Homo sapiens: one gene and its partners. The protein of the gene in region 1 interacts with the protein of each later gene in a biochemical or structural test. Each region holds a gene or a part of one and is shown in the gene's direction. Other genes may lie near its edges.

Region 1 (7,522 bases):
TGTATCAAAGCCATCCGCTCCTCAACTGTTTACATATAATGATTGACTTTGGATATGTGGCCTTAGACTGTTATCTGCAGAGTCTAGTTATGTTTTTTGTGCTTCCACACTTTTGACTACAGACTTCTTTGAAATTCCATTTCTGATTATTGTGTTTTAAGTTGTTATATCTACTTTCATATCTGAGATGTTCTGTCGCCAGGCTGGAGTGCAGTGGCGCAACACGGCTCACTGCAACCTCTGCCTCCCGGGTTCAAGCAATTATCCTGTCTCAGCCTCCTGAGTAGCTGGGATTACAGGTGCCCGCCACCGTGCCTGGCTAATTTTTGTATTTTTAGTAGGGACGAAGTTTCACCATGTTGGCCAGGCTGGTCTCGAACTCCTGACCTCAGGTGATCCACTCTCCTCGGCCTCCCAAAGTGCTGGGAGCCACTGCGCCCAGCCACATATTCTTGAGTTTAAAATGGAATAAGGTTTTGAGGTATTCATTTAGAAAAAAAATGCTGAATTACATGACTTATTTTAAAGCAATAGACAAAACTAAAATATTAGTTAAATAAACATTCTTAAACTTTTTTTCAAGTTAATAAATCTTGACAAATTATTTGAGTTGACAAACTGTGTTGTATTCCCCACTGAAGGTCTCTTGGTTTGCTAAGAGATACTTTAGGCATATTTTGGTAAAGCTTTGGTCCTCTTTAAGTCTGCAGCTGCTTTCAGTTGTTGCCTCTAGGAAGGATGCTTTTAGATGTTCTGGTAATCCTGGAATGGTAGAATTGCTATTTACTCTGATGAAACATTTCACTTGGTCCTTCCAGAACAAGTTAGGGTCCTCTGGAATCACTGTTCTCTTTAAGCTAAATAAGGAATCAAAAATAATTCACCTGAAAGCCCAAGTCATATAAAATAAATATTATCCAAAACTGTTCTATAACCATGTGAAACTTATTAATTTTTTTTTAATTGAAGTGAAGTCTCACTATGTTGCTCAGGCTGGTCTTGAGCTCAAGCTGTCCTACTGCCTCAGCCTACCAAGTAGCTGGGATTACAGGCACGCATAAGCACACCCAGCTAGCATGTGAAACTTTAAAAAACTGTTCAATAATTTTCCCTCCGAAACTTACTTCGATGAAAAAGTAAGAAATTAGTAATGAATAGAGCTAGGTACTAATCCTGCCTTTGCCATTCATTAACTTCTGTGTGATATGAACAAATCACTAGTGGGGTGTTATTTTCTCATATTCTGAAACATAAAATAGAAGTAGGAATATGTGTGGTGGGAGGTGAATATGAATCAAAAGAGAAATGTATTACAGATATTTATTATAGAGTTAAAGTAAAAAATAACAGTCCAGAATTGATCAAGTGTAGTGGCTAGGAGACAAGTGGGATCACAACTGAAAAAGAAGGGTAATCAGACTAAAAGGAGGTGTCCAAATTATTTTTCTCCTCTCCACTCCTCCCACCCCAGCTGTAATGTTGATGCTGCTTAATCAATTAACTAACATTACCAATAAGTAATAACCAATTAATGTGTTAATTCAACATTATAGTTACAGAGACTTTTACCTCCAATATTTGTTACTGTTAACCCCAAGGCATAGTATAATATCCTTATAAAAATATTTAGGGGTGACATACTTGGCATTGAATGATTAAAGAAGGAAATGAAACGAATACCAATATATTCATTTCCAAAGATATATGTATCCACATAATTGGACAAAGACTTTGATTTTTTTCTTTTGAGACAGGGTTTCATTCATGTTGCCCAGGCTGGTTTTGGACTCCTAGACTCAAGCGATTCTCCCCACTCAGCCTCCCAAAGTGTTGGCATTACAGGCATGAGCCACCACACCCAGGCCTAAATTGCATTTTATTAGTTTCCTTTAGAGATAATCCAAAATCAGACTATACACTTCTGCAGAAAAGTACTTTTGAACTACACATTACAGTGTCCTTTGCATTACCAGGTACTTCATGTTTAGTATTTGTTGAGTAACAGAAATCTTGTTTTTTAAACTTCTTTTTTTTTTGAGATAGAGTCTTGCTCTTTTGCCCAGGCTGGAGTGCAATGGCACGATCTTGGCTCACTGCAACCTCCACCTCCTGGGTTCAAGCAATTCTTCTGCCTCAGCCTCCCCAGTAGCTGGGATTACAGGCACTCACCACCATGCTCAACTAATTTTTGTATTTTTAGTAGAGACAGTGTTTCACCACGTTCACCAGGCTAGTCTTGAACTCCTGACCTCAAGTGATCCGTCCGCCTTGGCCTCCCAAAGTGCTGGGATTACAGGCGTGAGCCACCACGCCTGGCCTTTTTAAACTTTTTACTTGAACTAATGTTTGACTTACAGAACACTTGCAAAAACAGAACAGAGTGTTCATGTGTACACTTCTTCCAGCTTTCTTTCTTTTCTTTTCTTTTCTTAAGAGACAGTGTCTCACTATGTTGCCCAGGCTGGTCTTGTCTCAAGCTCCTGGCCTCAAGTGATCCTCCTGCCTTGGCCTCCAAATAAATATCAACAAATATTTATTGAGTGCGGTCTGTAAGACTAGTACAGTTCTGGCTGGGTGCTGTAGCTCATGCCTTTAATCCCAGCACTTTGGGAGGCCGAGGTGGGCAGATCACGAGGTCAGGAGTTCGAGGCCAGCCTGGCCAATATGGTGAAACCCTGTCTCTACCAAAAATACAAAAAATTAGCCAGGCTTGGTGGCGGCGCATGCCTGTAGTCCCAGCTGCTTGGGAGGCTGAGGCAGAAGAATTGCTTTAACCCAGGAGGCAGAGGTTGCAGTGAGCCAAGATCATGCCACTGCACTCCAGTTGGGTGACAGAGAAAGACTCCGTCTCAAAAAACAAAACAAAACAAAAAAGACTAGTACTATTCTAAACACATGGGTACAGCAGAGAATAAAGCAAAGATCCTGCCCTCATGTAGCTTATATTCTGAGAGTAATAGAAAAACAATTAACAAATAAGTATATGTTAGGGAATGGAAAGTGTGATGAACTCTATAAAGCAGGGTAAGGGAGATACAAGATGAGACAAGAGAGCAATGCACTGTCAGATAAAGCCCTTTGACAAGTTGATATGTGAGTAATGATCTGAAGTGAAGGATCAAACCAGATGCAAATCTGCAAGAGGAATGTCCCAGGTCACCTTTAGCCAATCTGTTTTAGATTTTCTGAACTCCCCAGATGATATTAAGGTAGGCTGCAGACACTATGAAGCTAGCTTGTTTTCTGGTTACCCTTACTCTTTATGTGTCCCAGTCCAAAGAAGAGGGGGGTGCGGTTTACTAAGGTGCCCAACCTTGGCAGGTCCCCATTTCAAATTCTTGTAACGCTGGCTCCAGGAGCTGCCAAAAGCACAACTCAACCTATGAGGTGCTCTTTATGACTGGAAAAAGTCCCCAGGATAAAAGCTCCTTAAGCACATTACTCTTTTTTTTTGAAACAGGGTCTCTCTGCTGCCCAGGCTGGAGTGCTGCGGCACCATCTCGGTTCATTGCAGCCTTCACCTCCCAGGTTCAAGCGATTCTCCCGCCTTAGTCTGCTGAGTAGCTGGGATTACAGGCGCGCTCCACCAAAACCAGCTAATTTTTGTATTTTTAGTACAGACCGGGTTTCACCATGTTGGCCAGGCTGGTCTCGAACTCCTGACCTCAAGTGATCCGCCCGCCTCGGCCTCCCAAAGTACTGGGATTACAGGCACAAGCCACCGCTCTCAGCCTCAAATTACTCTTTTAAATGGCTGTACCTATTTACACTCCTACCAGCAGCCCAAGAGTTCCCATTGTTTCACATCTTCATTTCACCCTTGATATTTTTTAGCTTTTACTTTTTGTCAAACTGCTGGATAAAACTCAATAAACAACCTTTAGCCATTCTCTCTCCTTTCAGATTAGCCTTTCTAATACCATTTTTCAGGGATAGTTGACTGTGTTACCGCCTAGCACTTAGAAGGTGCTCAGTAAATACTCATTGAATGATGTAACTTTCCTACTTAACATGCTTTAATGCTTTTCCAAGTCCGGAGGCGGCTCCCCTTTTCTGAGAGCCTAATAATCACGTATTCGTTTCTATATTCCCAGAACCTAACAAAGAGTTTGAAAATTATCCTGCAGGCACCGCTAAGTCAATGTTTTTTCGGATGAATGAATAACCAATAGGATATCGTATACTTCTGCGATGCACGCATTTCTATTATCGCACACACCGAATCATACCGTATTTATTACTTATCCACGCAGATGGTGAGGTCTGTAGCCTCGGCATCTACACTGTGTCTGAAAGTAGGCACTAAACCAGTATTTTTTTAATTGAACCGTAAACTTGAATCAAACTTGGAAGCATTTAAAGCCAAACGCAAAGATACATGCGCAGTGATGCAGTAGGGTCGTCCAATCAGAGTAGGGCAGGACAGGGCAGTGCAGCGGCTAGGTAGTGCGCACGCGCGGCGGGCTCGTCCGCGATTGGCTTCGCCGAGGCGGGATCCTTGAGCTTCTCCGGCGGCGAGGGGATAGCTGGTTACCAGAAGGACTTCTTTGCAGGGCCAGTGGTTTCTGTCAGATTTTCGCCGGTGCGTCCTGCAGGGGGAAGCTCGGGAGGCTGCGACAGCCTGTAGGCTCGTGCGGGACAAAGCAGGGAGTGGCGCCGGAGCAGGCCAACGAGGGAGGAGGGAGGGAAGGCGGCAGGAGCGACCGAAGTGGCCTTCTGCGGGCCTGCAGCTTTGGTCTGAAGTGCCAGGGACGCCCTGGTTGCTGGCCCCGGGGGCCTTGGAGCGAAGGGCGGGCGGTGGGGGTTTAGGGTTGTGCGTTTGTGTGGGAGGGATGGTTCTGGGCAGTGGCCCCTGGGGCCGCCACTGCGGTCGCTTTGCGCAGGCTCCTCTTGGCTTTTGGGTCTCTCCCTCACTCCTGCACTGGGAATTTCCTTCCCCAGGGCCAGGGGGTGAAGGCTCTGCGAGCGTCCTGGAGAGTGTCGGTACGCCTTCTTTAGGGGCTTTTACCTCTTCACTGGTCAGGTTTTTCTTGTATTTCCTTAAAACCTTTTAATCGATTACCTTATGGAAGATTTTCTAGGTAGGAACAGATGCTTCTCGACTTACTACGGGGTTGAAAATATCCCAAATGGAAAATGGATTTAAAACACAGCTAACCTACTGAGTATTAAAGCTTGGCCTAGCCTACTTTTGTTATCAAAAAAATTATTTTCAGCTGTTTATTTTAGATTTGGGGGTACATGTGCAGGTTTGTTGCATCGGTATATTACGTGGTGCTGAGGTTTGGATACGATTGATCCTGTCACCCAGGTAGTGAGCATGTTACCCAATAGTTTTTGAACCCTTGCTCCTCCTTTCCTCTCCCTTCTAGTTGTCTCCACTGTCTATTGTTGCCATCTTTATGTTCATGAATGCCCAATGTTTAGCTCCCATTTATAAGTGAGAACATGCAATATTTGATTTTCTGTTTCTGCTTTAATTCGCTTTGGATAATAGCCTCCAGCTGCACCCATGTTGCTGCAAAGGACATGATTTCATTCCTTTTTATGGCTGCGCTAGCCTACCTTAAACATGCTCAGAACACTTACCTTAATCTACAGTTGGGCAAAATCATGAACACAGACGGTTGTGTGGTTACTTGTACAGTTTCTACTGAATGCTCATGGCTTTCTTAAAAGTCGAAGAATTCTAAGTGACACCGTCCTAAATTAGGAACCATCTATATAGCCGGAGTCTCAAAGGAGCAATTTAAGGCATGAAGTGAAATAATTACTACCTAATGTAGTTGGAAGTCGACAAGCAGCAACAGCAGGGAGAGACCGTTGCTGGTTCTTGGTAGAGTTGGTGTACTTACATTCTTGCATCCTCGACGTTTGATGGTTGCACATACCTCTCTTTAAAGCCCAGACGAACCCAAAGATTCTGGTCATTGTCCTGTATGTTGAACTACCCCTTCTCTATCTCCTTCACAGGACCTTCATCATTTCTACTCTCCGATAATACTAATTATAACAGATAACATTGAGTGCTTACTATGTGTCAAGTTTTGTTCTAAGTGCTTTACATATTTCATTTAATCCTCCCAACAGTCCGGTGTGTAAGCATGATTATGGTACCCCCTCTTAAAGATGAGGAAACTGAGACACATGGAGCCAAAGTAAACTGTGCAAGACCATTAGAAAGTGTCAGTCCACATTTATATTCAGGCATTTGCTTTCAAAGTTGTGTTCTTATTTACCACAGTGTAGTGCCAAGTACTTGTGGCTATCTGGTGTATTACAGTTGTCAGCTTGGCCTTACCATTTTACTTGGAAGGACTGAAACTAATAGGTGTTATAGAAGTTGTAGCATCACATCAGGGCTACCAAATGGCTTTATTTCTAGGACCTGGGGAAAGGGCTCAGACAGCACTAATTAATTAATTAATTTATTATGGACAGGACAATATGAACATACAGAACCAGTTTAAAAAGCTATAAGGGTGCAATGGTCTTTTGGGGGGAAATGTACTGATTTCTGCATTTTACTTTGTATCAACAAATTAAATGGCTTGATGGATGCCCAAGGTCATATGTAAGTAGCAGAGTTGGGATTCTAGCCAGGCAGCCTGGCTGGCTCCAGAGTCAGTCTGTTTTCTTAACCACTGCTCTGTGCTGATGGTTGTATGCTTGCATTATCATTTTTATTAGTTTACAAAATAGGAGGATTGAAAAATCAGAAATCATGTATTAGATGTAGAAGGATTTAGGGTAGTAATTCTTCGCATTTAGTGTTGAAAGAAATTTTAGCATCTAGTTCATTCTTTATTTTATAAATGAGAAAATTGGTGTCTAGAGAGTTAAATAGCTTCCCCAAAGTTAAGCATCCCTGAAATAGCAGAATCTGAACTACACTCTGGTTTCCTTCATTTCTACTGTTGATGTTTCTAACTACTGTATTTTTTAAGTGTTCCTTTTTAAAAAGTGTCAGAATTTTCACAGTATTAGAGGGGAGTCTGACTAATGTAGAGAACAGAACTGATTACATTTCATGATGTGGACATCATATTTTTATTAATGCTATCTAGAATTTATTAGTTTAAGAAGGCTCATTATCTTATTTCAGTTGAGCTATAGTCACTAAAATCTTTAGTTTTAAATTTCAGCTTCTATTGTTCTATTTCATTTGACCATTAAGTAACTGAGTCTAAGTGCAAGGCCTAACATCCATGTCGTCCTGTGACAGTTACCGTTAATCAATTTCAAACTTGTGTCAGTTATATATTTAGAGGCCTGTAGTATTCTGCTTACCCATTATAAAAAGGAAATTAGTTTAATGAAGTTATTTTGGCATGACTTGTTTGGTCAGAATTTGTACTGACTTCTGGTATTGGTAAATACTGCTTCTAAAGCAGTCAAAAACCATCTGTTTCATAATTTGCTTTAAGATTAAAGATTATACTAATAGAGATCTATTTTGTCCTTGAATAAGAAACAGAAGAGAGTGATCTCTCCTACTCATTCCTCAAACTATATAAAGGCT
Region 2 (7,110 bases), on another chromosome or scaffold:
ACAGCTGCATTCTCCTCAGTCTCTGGTTACCACTGTTCTATTTGTTCCTTGTATGAGATGAACTTTTTTTTTTTTGTTTTTTTTTTTGAGACACAGTCTCACTCTGTCATGAGGCTGGAGTACAGTGGCACGATCTCGGCTCACTGCGATCTCTGTCTTCCGGGTTGAAGCCATTTACCTGCCTCAGCCTCCCGAGTAGCTGGGACTACAGGCGTGTGCCACCACACCCTGCTAATATTTGTATTTTTAGTAGGGACGGGGTTTCGCATGTTGGCCGGGATGGTCTTGATCTCCTGACCTGGTGATCTGCCCGCCTCGGCCTCCCAAAGTGCTGGGATCACAGGCATGAGCCACCGCGCCCCGCCAAGATCAACTTTTTTAGATTCTACATATGAGTGAGATCATGCAGTATTTGTCTGCAAACACATTTATAATGTATAATGGGGTATATAAAAATAAGTAAAACTTGGCCCCTACACTGAAGGAATATAAAGCAGGAGAACAGAGAGGCACAATAAGAGAATGGCCTTGGCTTTTCCTAAAGTCTTTTTGATACGACTAGCTAGATAGAAGATGGGGAGAGAGATGCACCTTATTTCTCTAGTGTTTATACTGATAAGCATTTGTATTTTTCAGTAATGGCAATGCAGATGCAGCTTGAAGCAAATGCAGATACTTCAGTGGAAGAAGAAAGCTTTGGCCCACAACCCATTTCACGGTTAGAGGTATGTGGTTAGTTGCTAATTTTGGAATTATATACTAGATTCTTCTACCTAGTGGAAGGTATTACAACCTTTACATAAAATATAGGTTTACTACCAAGGTCAAGACCCAAATTAGACTTTTCAGAAGTGTTGTCAATAATCCTGTGGAAAGGCTGCAGATCATTGCTAAATATGTCTGGCAGGGCCTCTTCCTTTGTCAACAATTCTCTTCCTACTTTATCATTTTTATTTCTGAGAGTTGGACTGTCAGAAACTAAGGCCTAGGATCCCATGGTGGAATCTCTGTGCTGTTTTTGTTTGTTTGTTTGTTTGTTTTTGATGGAGTTTCGCTCTTGTTGCCCAGGCTGGAGTGCAATGGCGTGATCTCGGCTCACCGCAACCTCTGCGTCCCAGGTTCAAGCGATTCTCCTGCCTCAGCCTCCCAAGTAGCTGGAATTACAGGCATGAGCCACCACACCCAGCTAATTTTATATTTTTAGTAGAGACAGGGTTTCTCCATGTTGGTCAGGCTAGTCTCGAACTCCTGACCTCAGGTGATCCACCCTCTTTGGCCTCCCAAAGTGCTGGGATTACAGGCATGGGCCACTGCGCCCAGCCTGTGCTGTTTTTTTGTTTGTTTTTTAAGAAATGGGTCTTAACTGTGTTGACCATGTTGATCTTGAACTCCTGGCCTCAAGCAGTCCACCTGCCTTGGCGTCCCAAACTGCTAGGATTACAGGCATGAGCCACCATGCCTGGCCAAAGCATCCTGTGCTATTTGCACTAAGTATGAAAGTGCTGTTCTGGGAATTATAGCGGCCTGGACCAGTTATGCAAGGAAGACAGGGAAGCACCTTCTCTCCATTAACCTAGATTTGTGCTGTCAGCTGTCATTGGCAGAGAGAAGGGTGTGGTGGTGTTATGGTATAAGAGACAAGCTCCAATTCAGGATTCTGCACAAGAACATTAAGCACCAGAGCTGAGGCCTTACACTATTTCTGCCCATTGTATAGAGACTGCCCTGTGAGTGCAGCTGATTTGGGCTAAGTAGGAGGAAAGCAGAGAAAGACTTGATTCTTCTGTCTCTTTTTTTCATATTTCCCATCTCTGACTAATCTTCAAGACTCTAGAAGTTAGGAGTGCAAAAGGCTAATAAAAAAAAAAGACTCTAGAAGTTACTTAAATGGATTTGTGATAAACATTTGAAAGTTCAGAGTCATAACTTCTGGTGCCATGAGCATCCTTATACTCAAACATGCATATTGCTTAAATATTAATAGCAGACATGGCTTATGTTGGCAAACTAATCTCTCCCCTCTTCTAAATTCTCCCAACCCCTGAATGCACCCACATTCACCTACTAACTCATGTTTTCCCAGAAGTCATGGTTTTGGTGGCTAATGAAACCAAAGCTGACTTGAATATAGGAAGAAAGAGGTGTCTTTGGGTGGTTTGTTTTGAGAAGAGGTATAAAAGTCCCTGACAAAAAGTAGTTTTCCTCACTGTTAATGTCAGTTGTTAGAGCAGAGCTTTCTGGTCATTGTTCAACAAAAAGTATTGACAGGCCAAGATAGTGCTCTTTATATTCTGAGCAGCCTTATCTATTTACCCTACCATAGTGTAAAAATACAGTTTTTTATGTGTGCTTGATGTGGAAAGTGTTGAGCAACACTGTCTTAAAGTGGTCTTGTAGGGCCCAAGGTCTCAGAGATCATTTAGGGTCACAAAAAAAGGTTGGGAGTTACTTTTTAATTCCAATTGCTAATAGGAGTTCTTTTTAATGTACATGGCTTAGTGCTAGTTTAAAATTATTGATTTTGATAATGAAAAGGTTGTTAATTTGTTATTAAGTACCTCATATATAGGGCTCATTTTTCAGCTTTTGCATATAATAACAGTAGGCTCTCTGTATCTCCGGATTCTGTATCAGCAAATTCAACAAACTACGTATCAAAAATTCAATCAACTACATATCAAAAAAAAGTATACAGGAGGATGTACATAGGTTATATGCAGGTAATACGCCATTTTATATAAGGGACTTGAGCATTGTTGGATTTTGTTATCTGCTGGGGGTCCTGGAACCAACTTCCCATCTCCCCCCGCCCCCCCAAGGATTTCAAGGGACAGTTGTATTACAAGTCTTCAAGCACCTCTGTGAAGTATGTAGGACACATAACATCTGTGTTAGATTAGAGAACTAAAGCTTAAATTTATCCATGGTTTTCTTCATTTGCAGCAGTGTGGCATAAATGCCAACGATGTGAAGAAATTGGAAGAAGCTGGATTCCATACTGTGGAGGCTGTTGCCTATGCGCCAAAGAAGGAGCTAATAAATATTAAGGGAATTAGTGAAGCCAAAGCTGATAAAATTCTGGTAAGTACTGCTTACTTAACCTAGGGAGGCATTAGTGGGAATAGTACAAAAGGGAATGTAGTGAAAGACTTCTTCCTTCTATCTCTTATTCTTCGGTCATCTCATTATCCTTTCCAGGGGTGACTGTTACCTGTTTCTTTTCTTCTTTTCTTTTCTTTTCTTTTTTTTTTCTTTCTTTTTTTTTTTTTTTGGAGACGGGTTCTCGCTCTGTCACACAGGGTGGAGTGCAGTGGTGCCATCTCAGCTCACTGCAACCTTCACCTCCCAAGCTCAAGCGATCCTCTCACCTCAGCCTCCCAAGTAGCTGGGACTACACTACAGGCACATGCCACCATGCCGGGGTAGTCTCGAACTCCTGAGCTCAGGCGATTCACCTACCTCAGCCTCCCAAAGTGCTGGATTATAGGTGTGAGCTACTGTGCCTGGCCTATTTATTTTTCTAGCTTCATATAGTTCTTTAACATACATACTTCCCCATGGTTACATTTTGTTTTATGAACCTATTTCTTCAGTGTTTATATAGTTACACAGTTTTATTGCCTTTACCCTTGAAGTTTTATGTAGTATAAAGCAGATTTTTTTTTTTTTTTTTTTTTTTTTTGAGACGGAGTCTCGCTCTGTTGCCAGGCTGGAGTGCAATAGCGTGATCTTGGTCTACTGCACCCTCCGCCTCTCAGGTTCAAGTGATTCTCCTGCCTCAGCCTCCCGAGTAGTTGGGACTACAGGTATGTGCCACCACACCCAGCTAATTTTTGTATTTTTATTAGAGACAGGGTTTCACCACGTTGGCCAGGATGGTCTCGATCTCCTGACCTTGTGATCTGCCCACCTCAGCCTCCTAAAGTGCTGGGATTACAGGTGTGAGCCACCGCGCCCCACCGCAAATATTTATTTATAAAATTGTATTTTCACGTATCGATTACTGTTAGCGTTAGATAAATTTATTGGATTACTCAAATGAATATTTGCTGAAGTGGTTGCTTAATTGGAAATAAGGGTTCTGAGTCCCTAACAGTATTTTTGTTAAAAGATTGTCATATTGACTAAGCCAGTAGGGGTCCCTAAAGTCTTTCTGTTTTCGCTTTTTGGGTATCAGTTTTTGTGAATGAACAAATGCTGACAGGATCTTTTCTTTTTGCCTTGCGAGATCTTGGTTTCAGAAATCAAGTCACTTCTCTGTTTCTATGAACACAACAATGCAAACCTAGAATACATGATTTGAGATGCAATATGGTATAGACTTACGTGTCTTTACTTTTCAATATTTTATGTTCTTTGTTTCTGGCCAGTAAAGATTATGATTGTATTGTTTGTTTTCTGTTTTTTTTTGAGGCAGAGTGTCGCTGTGTCACCCAGGCTGGAGCACAATGGTGCAATTTTGGCTCTGCTCACTGCAACCTCTGCCTTCCGGGTTCAAGTGATTGTCGTGCCTCAGCCTCCCAAGTAGCTGGGATTACAGGCTCCCACCACCACACGTGGCTAATTTTTGTATTTTCAGTTGAGACGGGGTTTCACCATGTTGCCCAGGCTGGTCTCAAACTCCTGGCCTCAAGCAATCTGCCCACCTCAGCCTCCCAAAGTGCTGAAATTACAGGCACTAGCCACTGTGCCCACCTTTTTTTTTTTTTTTTAAAGAAAAAAAAGAAAAGTCTCACTCTGTTGCCCAGGCTGGAGTGCAGTGGCATGATCAAAGCTCACTGCAGCTTCAGCTTCAAACTCCTGGGCTCAAGGAATTCTCAGCCTGCTGAGTAGCTGGGACTATAGGCACATGCCACTAGCCTGACCATTTCTACCAGTTTTGTCTTTGCTAATACATTCTCCTGTTTTTCACCAAAGGAAGTAGTCTATATTCCTTGAGCTCCCATGGCTTGTTAGTACTTCTCATATTACCCATCACATCTACTTGTACTATAGTTATTTTGTATAGTTTATCTTTCTGATTAAGTTATAAGCTCTGTGGAGGCAGGAATCAGCTCTTCTTTTTCTCCATATCCTTCAGAGTCCCTGGGACTATGTTTCATACGAAGTAAGTGTCTAGTACATGTTTGTTGCACTGAAATGACAGTGAGTATATGAATTGGCCAGGCTGGTCTCAAAATCCTGGCCTCAGGTAATCCGCCCATCTCAGTATCCCAAAGTGCTGGGATTACAGGCGTGAGCCACTGCACCTGGCCGTGCAATGAATTTTTAAATGAAATATTAAGTATATAGAAAAGTTTAGAGAATAAACTTTCATTGATTTTTCAGCTATTTGTTGATTTTTTTTCTTCATGGGAAATTTAAACATTATGAAAGTTTAATCTTTTTACTTTCTATGGGTCTATTTAGATTTTCTTCTTGAGTGAGTTTTGGTAGTTTATCTTTCTAAGAATTTGCTTATTTCATCTAAGTTACCTAACTTGTTGACATAGAGATGCTCACAGGGTTTCCTTATACTACTTTTTATTTACATAAAGTCAGTAGTAATGTCCCCTCTTTCATTCTTGATTTTAGTAATTTGAGTCTTTTCTCTTTTTTTCTCGGGCAATGCAGCTAAAAGTTTGTCAATTTTGTTGATATTTTCAAAGAACCAGCTTTTGGTTTCATTGATTTTTCTCTATTATTCTGCCCTCTACTTAATAGTTTCTACCCTAACCTGTATTATTTCCATCTTTCTGCTTGCTTTGTTTTGTTTGCTTTTCTTTGGAAGGTTAGGTTATGATTTATCTTTTTTATTTTTAGAGGCAGAGTCTTGTTCTGTCACTTACGTTGGAGTGCAGTGGTGTGATCATAGCTCACTGCAGCCTCCAACTCCTGGCTCAAACAAACCTTCTGCCTCAGCCTCCCAGGTAACTAGGACCACAGGCACGCCCCACCATGCCCTGCTATTTATTTTATTTTATTTTATTTTTGAGACGGAGTCTCCCTCTGTGCCCAGGCTGGAGTGCAGTGGCGTGATCTCTGCTCACTGCAACCTCTGCCTCTTGGGTTCAAGCGATTCTCCTGCCTCAGCCTCCTGAGTGGCTGGGATTACAGGCACGTGCCGCCATGCCCAGCTAATTTTTAGTAGAGACAGGGTTTCACCGTGTTAGCCAGGATGGTCTTGATCTCCTGACCTCATGATCTGCCTGCCTCAGCCTCCCAAAGTGCTGGGATTACAGTCGTGAGCCACCGCGCCAGGCCTTTTTTTTTTTTTTTTCTGATGCAGTCTCACTCTCTTGCCCAGGCTGGAGTGCGGTGGTGTGATCTCGGCTCACTGCAACCTCCGCCGCCCGGGTTCAAGCAGTTCTCCTGTTTCAGCCTCCTGAGTAGTTGGGACTACAGGCGCACGCCACCACGCCCAGCTATTTTTTGTATTTTTAGTAGAAATGGGGTTTCACCATATTGGGCAGGCTGGTCTTGAACTCCTGACTTCGTGATCTGCCCACCTCACCCTACCAAAGTGCTGGGATTCAGGCATGAGCCACCATGCCCAGCCATGCCCTACTAATTTTTTTTTTTTTTTTTGAGATGGAATCTCGCTGTGTCTCTCAGGCTGGAGTGCAGTGGTGCAAATTCAGCTCACTGCAACCTCCGCCTCCCAGATTCAAGTGATTCTTCCACCTCAGCCTCCCGAGTAGCTGGGACTACAGGCGCGTGCCACCACGCCCGGCTAATTTTTGTATTTTTAGTAGAGAGGAAGTTTCACCATGTTGGTCAGGCTGGTCTTGAACTCCTGACCTTGTGATCTGCCCACCTCAGCCTCCCAAAGTTCTGAGATTACAGAGGTGAGCCACCACACCCAGCCACCCTGCTAATTTTAAAACATTTTTAGAGCCAGGGTGCTGCTTTGTTACTCAGGCTGGTCTCAAACTCCTGGCTTCCAGCAGTCCTCCCACCTCAGCCTCCCAAAGTGCTGGGATTACAGGTGTGATTCACCACACCCAGCCTTCTTTTCTAATATAGCTGTTTATAGCTATGAATTTCTCTCTAAGCACTGCTTTTCTTGGAGCCCATACGTTTTGGTATATCTTCGTTTTCATTCATTGCAAAAACATTTTCTGATTTCCC
Region 3 (7,110 bases), on another chromosome or scaffold:
TATAAATTTTATCATCTGGTAAGTCCTTAGATAATAAAGTGCCCTCAAATTATTTATTATTCTTTGTCTTTGAAATTAAGAGTAACATTCTTTTTGGATAATGTAGCATTTGGTATACATGCTAAGGCAGAATATGCAATAATTTTTTTTTTTTTTTGAGATGGAGTCTCGCTCTGTCACTCAGGCTGGAGTGCAGTGGTATGATCTCGGCTCACTGCAACCTCCAACTCCTGGCTTCAAGTGATTCTCCTACCTCAGCCTCCCAAGTCGCTGGGATTACAGGCACACGCCACCACACCCAGCTAATTTTTGTATTTTTTAGTAGAGTCAGGGTTTCACCATGTTGGCAAGGCTGGTCTTGAACTCCTGACCCCAAGTGATCCACCTGCCTCGGCCTCCCAAAGTGTTGGGATTATAGGCATGAGCCACCATGCCCTGCTGCAATAATATTTAATAAAGTCATCAATAATTAAGAAAATCCTTCAAGGAATTTATTTTGCCTGGCTCCCAAGAATATGAATGATCTTAGCCTCTGCTTCTTTCAACTTTTATAACATTTTCTCACTGCATTTCCCATCAGGTGAACATCAGATGGAGCTACTTGATTATGTAGCAGCAAAGTTCCATGAAGAAGCTGGCATCTTCAAGCTATTGGTACAAGCTTTTAAATATTGCTTTCACAGAGCTATTTAGCATAATATTTTTCTTCTATTGATCTCTATTCAAATAACGTCTTCCTTCAATTTCCAAATGCATGTTTATTTTTACATTAATCCTGTGTAGATTATCGATTCAATAATGGCACTTTTTCGAGTGGATTTCAGTGGCCGTGGGGAGTTGGCCGAACGGCAGCAAAAATTGGCCCAGATGTTGTCACGACTCCAAAAAATCTCAGAAGGTATATCTTTAAAATAAAATGGCATCTGTGACTATGTTTGTCAAGTATACTTTGCAGAGAAGCTTGGAATATAATGTCAGGAGGCAGCGATTTTTTTTTAAATAAAATTACCTTTATGAGAATACAACTCTTTGTTTTTTTTTTGTTTTTTGAGATGGTATCTCGCTCTGTTGCCCAGGCTGGAGTGCAGTGGTGCGATCTCGGCTCACTGCAACCTCCGCCTCCCAGGTTCAAGCAATTCTTCCTCCTTAGCCTCCTGAGTAGCTGGAATTACAGGCACCTGCCATCACACCAGGCCAATTTTTTGTATATTTAGTAGAGACGGGGTTTCACCATGTTGGCCAGGCTGGTCTCGAGCTCCTGACCTCGTGATCTGTCCGCCTCAGCCTCCCAAAGTGCTGGGATTACAGGCATGAGCCGCTGAGCCCGGCTTTACAACTCTTTTTAAACCAAAAATATTTATTCTAACCTTAATAATAATAATAACAAATAATTTCTGTTGTCAATGAAAAATAGGAATATGATGTTATTTATAAAATAAATTCATGATGCAATATGTCTAAACTCTGAAATCTAAACAATGAACTTTTAAATATCTATATTGCCTTTCTCATAGTTTTAAAATTTTATCTCTTGATGCAGAATATAACGTGGCTGTTTTTGTGACCAATCAAATGACTGCCGATCCAGGAGCAACTATGACGTAAGCCCCAATATTCTACTTTTTATTTCACAGAGGTTAATATAAAGAGGGTTAGAGCGTAGAATAGAAAATAATTTCAAGGCCGGGCACGGTGGCTCACGCCTGTAATTCCAGCACTTTAGCAGGCTGAGGCAGGCGGATCACGAGGTCAGGAGATGGAGACCAGCCTGACTAACATAGTGAAACCCCGTCTCTACTAAAAATACAGAGATTAGCCGGGTGTGGTGGCGCACACCTGTAATCTCAGCTACTCCGGAGGCTGAGGCAGAAGAATCACTTGAACCTGGGAGGTGGAGGTTGTAGTAAGCCGAGATCGCGCCATTGTACTCCTGTCTGGGAAACAGAGCAAGATTCTATCTCAAAAAGAAAAAAGAAAAAAGAAAAGAATTTAAAAATCATTAGTCTTTATGTGGGCACAAATATATCACAAATCACTTTATTACTGGGCGCAGTGGCTCATGCCTGTAATCCCAACACTTTGGGAGGCCTAGATGGTTGGATCACCTGAGGTCAGGAGTTCAAGACCAGCCTGGCCAACATGATGAAGCCTCGTCTCTACTAAAAATACAAAAAATTAGCTGGGCGTGGTGGCGTGCACCTGTAATCCCAGCTATTCGGGAGGCTGAGGTGGGAGAATCACTTGAACCTGGGAGGCGGAGGTTGCAGTGAGCCAAGATCATGCCATTGCACTCCAGCTTGTGCAACAAGAGCAAAACTGCATCTCAAAAAAAAAATCACTTTATTGCACAGTGTATATGACTTCATAATTGTAAATATCACTTGGTAACCAGAATCTATTTTTCTCTAGTTCTTTATAGAATAAAGCAATACTTTAACCATTTTCAGCAGTACTTTGGGCTTCTCTTTGGTCTAGGGCTAAAGGGGTATGGGAGGACAATAAGAAATAGATCCTAGGGAAATAAAAACTTATATTGCAGCTTATCAGTATAATAAACACCATTCATAAAAACAAAAAAGTCATCTTTCTACAGGATATACATGAGATATATTTATCAGAGGCACTATGGGAGAAGTCTCCTGTTTGAAGAAAAAGAATTTCAGTTCACACTAGGCATATTCAGAATTTGTTGAAGTGTTTGTGCACATAACTATTGATGACTCTGAAAGACGGCAGTGAATAGAAACACACAGAGAGCTAAAGTAGGATAATAAAAATAGATAAATCAAACAAAGGTTTGTTGCCACCGTAACAAATTTTGAGCATTATGTGTCTGAATAAGCAATCAAAATAATCCTAAATACACACCACTGCACTCCAGCCTGGGAGACAGAGCAAGACTGTCTCAAACAAAGCAAAACAAATCTAAATTCATGATAATGCTTTTTTAAAGTGTGTGTGTGTTTTTTTTTTTTAAGAGACAAGGTTTCACTCTGTCACCCAAGCTGCAATGCAGTGGCACCATCTCTGCTCACTGCAACCTCTGCCTCTCAGGCTCAGGTGATGCTCCAGCCTCAGCCTCCCGAGCAGCTGGGAGGCACACATCGCCACGCCTGGCTAATTTTTTTATTTTTAGAAGAGACAGGGTTTTGCCATGTTGGCCAGGCTGGTCTCGAACTCCTGGCCTCAAGCGATCCTCCCACCTCAGCATCCCAAAGTGCTAGGATTACATGTGTGAGCCCCCTTGCCTAGCCAAAAAGCTTTTAAAAAAATCTTTTAAAGGCTGGGTGCAGTGGGCAGTGGCTCACTGTAATCTCAGCACTTTGGGAGGCCGAGGTGGGAGGATCACCTGAGGTCAGGAGTTCAAGACCAGCCTGGACAACATGGCAAAACCCTGTCTTTACTAAAAATAAAAAAACTAGCCAGGCATGGTGGTGTGCACCTGTAGTCCTAGCTTCTTGGGAGGCTAAGACAGGAGGATCACTTGAACCTGGGAGGCAGAGGTTGAAGTGAGCCAAGATCGTGCCACTGCACTCCAGCCTGGGTGACAGAACAAGACTCCGTCTCAAAAACAAAAAAAAAAAAGATTTTTTTAAAGGTTTTTATTTAGAAAATATTTTTACCAGAGAGAAGTTAAAAAACTAGTGCAATGAATTCATGCCACTGCATTTCAGCCTGGGAGACAGAGCAAGACATACTCATTTATCTAGGTTCATCAGTTGTTAAATTTGCCACATTTTTTCTCTCTCCTGTATGTGTGTGTGTGTGTGTGTGTGTGTGTGGAGGTGTACATACACCTTTGTTTCTCCACACATACACACATTCTCATATGTATATGTATGTGGTATGTGTATACGGTTTTTTGTTTGTTTTTCTTTTTCTTTTTTTTTTTTTGAGACGGAGTCTCGCTCTGTCACCCAGGCTAGAGTGCAGTGGCACGATCCCAGCTCACTGCAGTCTCCGCCTCCCAGGTTCAGGCGATTCTCCTGCCTCAGCCTCCTGAGTAGCTGGAATTACAGGCACCTACCACCACACCCGGCTAATTTTTTGTATTTTTAGTAGAGACGGGGTTTCACCGTGTTAGCCAGGATGGTTTCTATCTCTTGACCTCACGATCCACCTGCCCCGGCCTCCCAAAGTGCTGGGATTACAGGCATAAGCCACTGTGCCCAGCCTCTTTTTTTTTTAGATGGAGTTTCACTCTTGTTTCCCAGGCTGGAGTGCAATGGTGCGATCTCAGCTCACTGCAACCTCCACCTCCTGGGTTCAAGCAATTCTCCTGCCTCAGCCTCCCGAGTAGCTAGGATTACAGGCACCTGCCAACCACCCCTGGCTAATTTTTTTTGTATTTTTAGTAGAGACAGGGTTTCACCACGTTGGCCAGGCTGGTCTCGAACTCCCGACCTCAGGTGTTCCACCCACCTTGGCCTCCCAAAGTCCTGGGATTACAGGCATGACCCACCGCACTCAGTCGTGTTTGTTTGTTTTTTGAGACAGAGTCTTGCTCTGTCACTCAGGCTGGAGTGCAGCAGCACCATCTCAGCTCACTGCAACCTCTGCCTCCTGGGTTCAAGCAATTCTCCTGCCTCAGCCTCCCGAGTAGCTGGGATTACAGGCGCCTGCCACCATGGCCGGCTAATTTTTGTATTTTTAGTAGAGACGGGGTTTCTTCATGTTGGCCAGGCTGGTCTCGAACTCCTGACCTCAGGTGATTCGCCCACCTCAGCCTCCCAAAGTGCTGGGATTACAGGTGTGAGCCACTACGCCCAGCCTGTATATGTATTTTTTGGTGAACCATTTGAGAAGTTTCTTCTGAACCACTGAAAATTATTCACAGACATCATGACACTTCACCTCTTAATACTTCAGCATATCTCTTCTAAGAATAATGATGTTCTTCTACATAGCCACAATATAATTATCACATTCAGAAATTCTAACATTGGCATAATAATGTTATCTAATATACAGTTGTATTCAAGTGTCTCCAGTTGCCCCAATAATGTCCTTTATAGTTGTTGGGGGTTTTTTTGTTTTGCATTCAATTCAGGATCAATTGAAGAACATGCACTGCGTGTAATTGTCATGTCTCTTTAGTCTCCTTTAATCAGAACAGCTCTTCAACCTTTGTTAGACTTTTATGACACCGACATTTTTGTAGAACACAGACCAACTGTTTTGCAATGTCCCTCAATTTGAAGTTGAATTTTTTCTTCATTACTTAAAATGTTAAGCATTTTGACAGGAAAACTACATAAGCAATATTATGGCCTTCTCAGTATATCATATCAGGAGGCACATGATGGCAGTTTGTCCCATTATTAGTGATGTTAATTCTGATCATATGATTAAGATGATATTCACATGATGTCTCCATTGTAAAAGAAAATTACAAAAATTCTCTTTTATATTTAATTAGTAATTTGTGGTGTGATAATTTGAGACTGTGTAAATATCTTGCTCTGCAATAAGCTTTCATGCATTTATATTAGCATCCATTGAAGATTCTTGCCTAAATTAATTAGAGTAAATTAATTATTACTCTGATGGTTGCAATACAAAGTGCTATTACTTTAAAACAGAAGCAATGCATCATATGGTAGCAGATTAAATGTATCATTGACAGATATATTAAAAGATATTTGATATGCTGGAGTAAATTCTGTAAATTACATTGAAATGAATGTGTCTCTCTTTAAGCATTTTCCAAATTTACCCTTAACAATTTTGCTTCATCTTTCGCAGTTTGATATCTATCTCTCACTTTTCAAGACTCTTTTTTTTTTTTTTTTTTTTTGTGATGGAGTCTCGCTCTGTCACTCAGGCTGAAGTGCAATGGCGCGATCTCGGCTCACTGCAAGCTCCGCCTCCCAGGTTGATGCCATTCTGTCACCTCGGCCTCCCTAGTAGCTTGGGACTATAGGCGCCCGCCACCACACCCGGCTAATTTTGTTTTTGTGTTTTAGTAGAGACGGGGTTTCACCGTGTTAGCCAGGATGGTCTCGATCTCCTGACCTCGTGATCCATCTGCCTCAGCCTCCCAAAGTGCTGGGATTACAGGCATGAGCCACCGCGTCTGGCCTCAAGACCCTTTTATAAGTATTTTCTACTTAGTTACAAGAGATTCCTGTGAAAAATATTAACTACTCAAATGTTATTAAGCAAGTTAAAAAGATTGAGCAGGGGAAATCATTTATTCACTCAATGAATATTTATTGAAAATCTACTATGTAACAATATTCTGAGAATTCACTAGTGAACAAAAAAGACAAAAATCCTGGCCTCGGCCAAGCACGGTGGCTCACGCCTGTAATCCCAGCACTTTGGGAGGCCGAGGCAGGAGGATCGCTTGAGCCCAGGAGCCTAAGTCACATAGACAGACCTCGTCTCTAAAAAAAATTAAAAATTAGCCAAGCATGGTGGCACATGCCTGTAGTCCTAACTACTTGGGAGGCTGAGGCAGGAGGATTGCTTGAGCCTGGGAGGTCAAGGCTGCAGTGAGCCATGTTTGCACCACTGCACTCCAGCCTGGGCAAGAGAGTGAGAACCTGTCTCAAAAAAAAAAAAGTCTTGTGAACGGGTGTGGTGGCTCACTCCTGTAATCCAGCACTTTGGGAGACCAAGGTCAGTGGATCACGAGGTCAGGAGATCGAGACCAGGCTGGCCAACATGGTGAAACCCTGTCTCTACTAAAAATATAAAAATTAGCCGGGCGTAAATGCGCGTGCCTGTAATCCCAGCTACTTGGGAGGCTGAGGCAGAAGAATCGTTTGAACCCGGGAGGGGAGGTTGCAGTGAGCCGAGATCACACCCCTGCACTCCAGCCTGGGTGACAGAGTGAGACTCTGTCTCAAAAAAGAAAAAAAAAAAAAAAGAAAGACAATAAATGATGTCCATTCAACTCAAAATTTTAGTCTTGGTAAGTCACACATTGTCTATAGTATAGTCGCTGAGTGGTTAAGGCAATCATCTCTGTTTTATGGGATGACTTTCATACACAGGACATGAAGTGCTTCACAAAGAGAATAATTTTAAACTGAAGAGAAATGGAAGATTTTTAAGGCTCGTTTTAAAAAGAGAAAATGACTCATTGGCTCAGAGGGAGGAAGT

Evidence for each region.
Region 2: the proteins of RAD54B (region 1) and RAD51 form a complex in vitro, tested with the Homo sapiens proteins (2 studies listed by BioGRID).
Region 3: the proteins of RAD54B (region 1) and DMC1 form a complex in vitro, tested with the Homo sapiens proteins (one study listed by BioGRID).

What each region holds. Positions count from the first base shown.
Region 1 is NC_000008.11:94,472,061-94,479,582, reverse strand, and holds the start of RAD54B (DNA repair and recombination protein RAD54B), read left to right. Parts: upstream 1-4,467; 5' UTR 4,468-4,582; intron 4,583-7,522. UniProt on the Homo sapiens protein: Involved in DNA repair and mitotic recombination. May play an active role in recombination processes in concert with other members of the RAD52 epistasis group.
Region 2 is NC_000015.10:40,698,121-40,705,230, forward strand, and holds part of RAD51 (DNA repair protein RAD51 homolog 1), read left to right. Parts: intron 1-636; coding exon of another isoform or gene 637-638; coding exon 639-725; intron 726-2,943; coding exon 2,944-3,081; intron 3,082-3,685; coding exon of another isoform or gene 3,686-3,806; intron 3,807-7,110.
Region 3 is NC_000022.11:38,532,083-38,539,192, reverse strand, and holds part of DMC1 (meiotic recombination protein DMC1/LIM15 homolog), read left to right. Parts: intron 1-580; coding exon 581-654; intron 655-783; coding exon 784-898; intron 899-1,540; coding exon 1,541-1,601; intron 1,602-7,110. UniProt on the Homo sapiens protein: Participates in meiotic recombination, specifically in homologous strand assimilation, which is required for the resolution of meiotic double-strand breaks.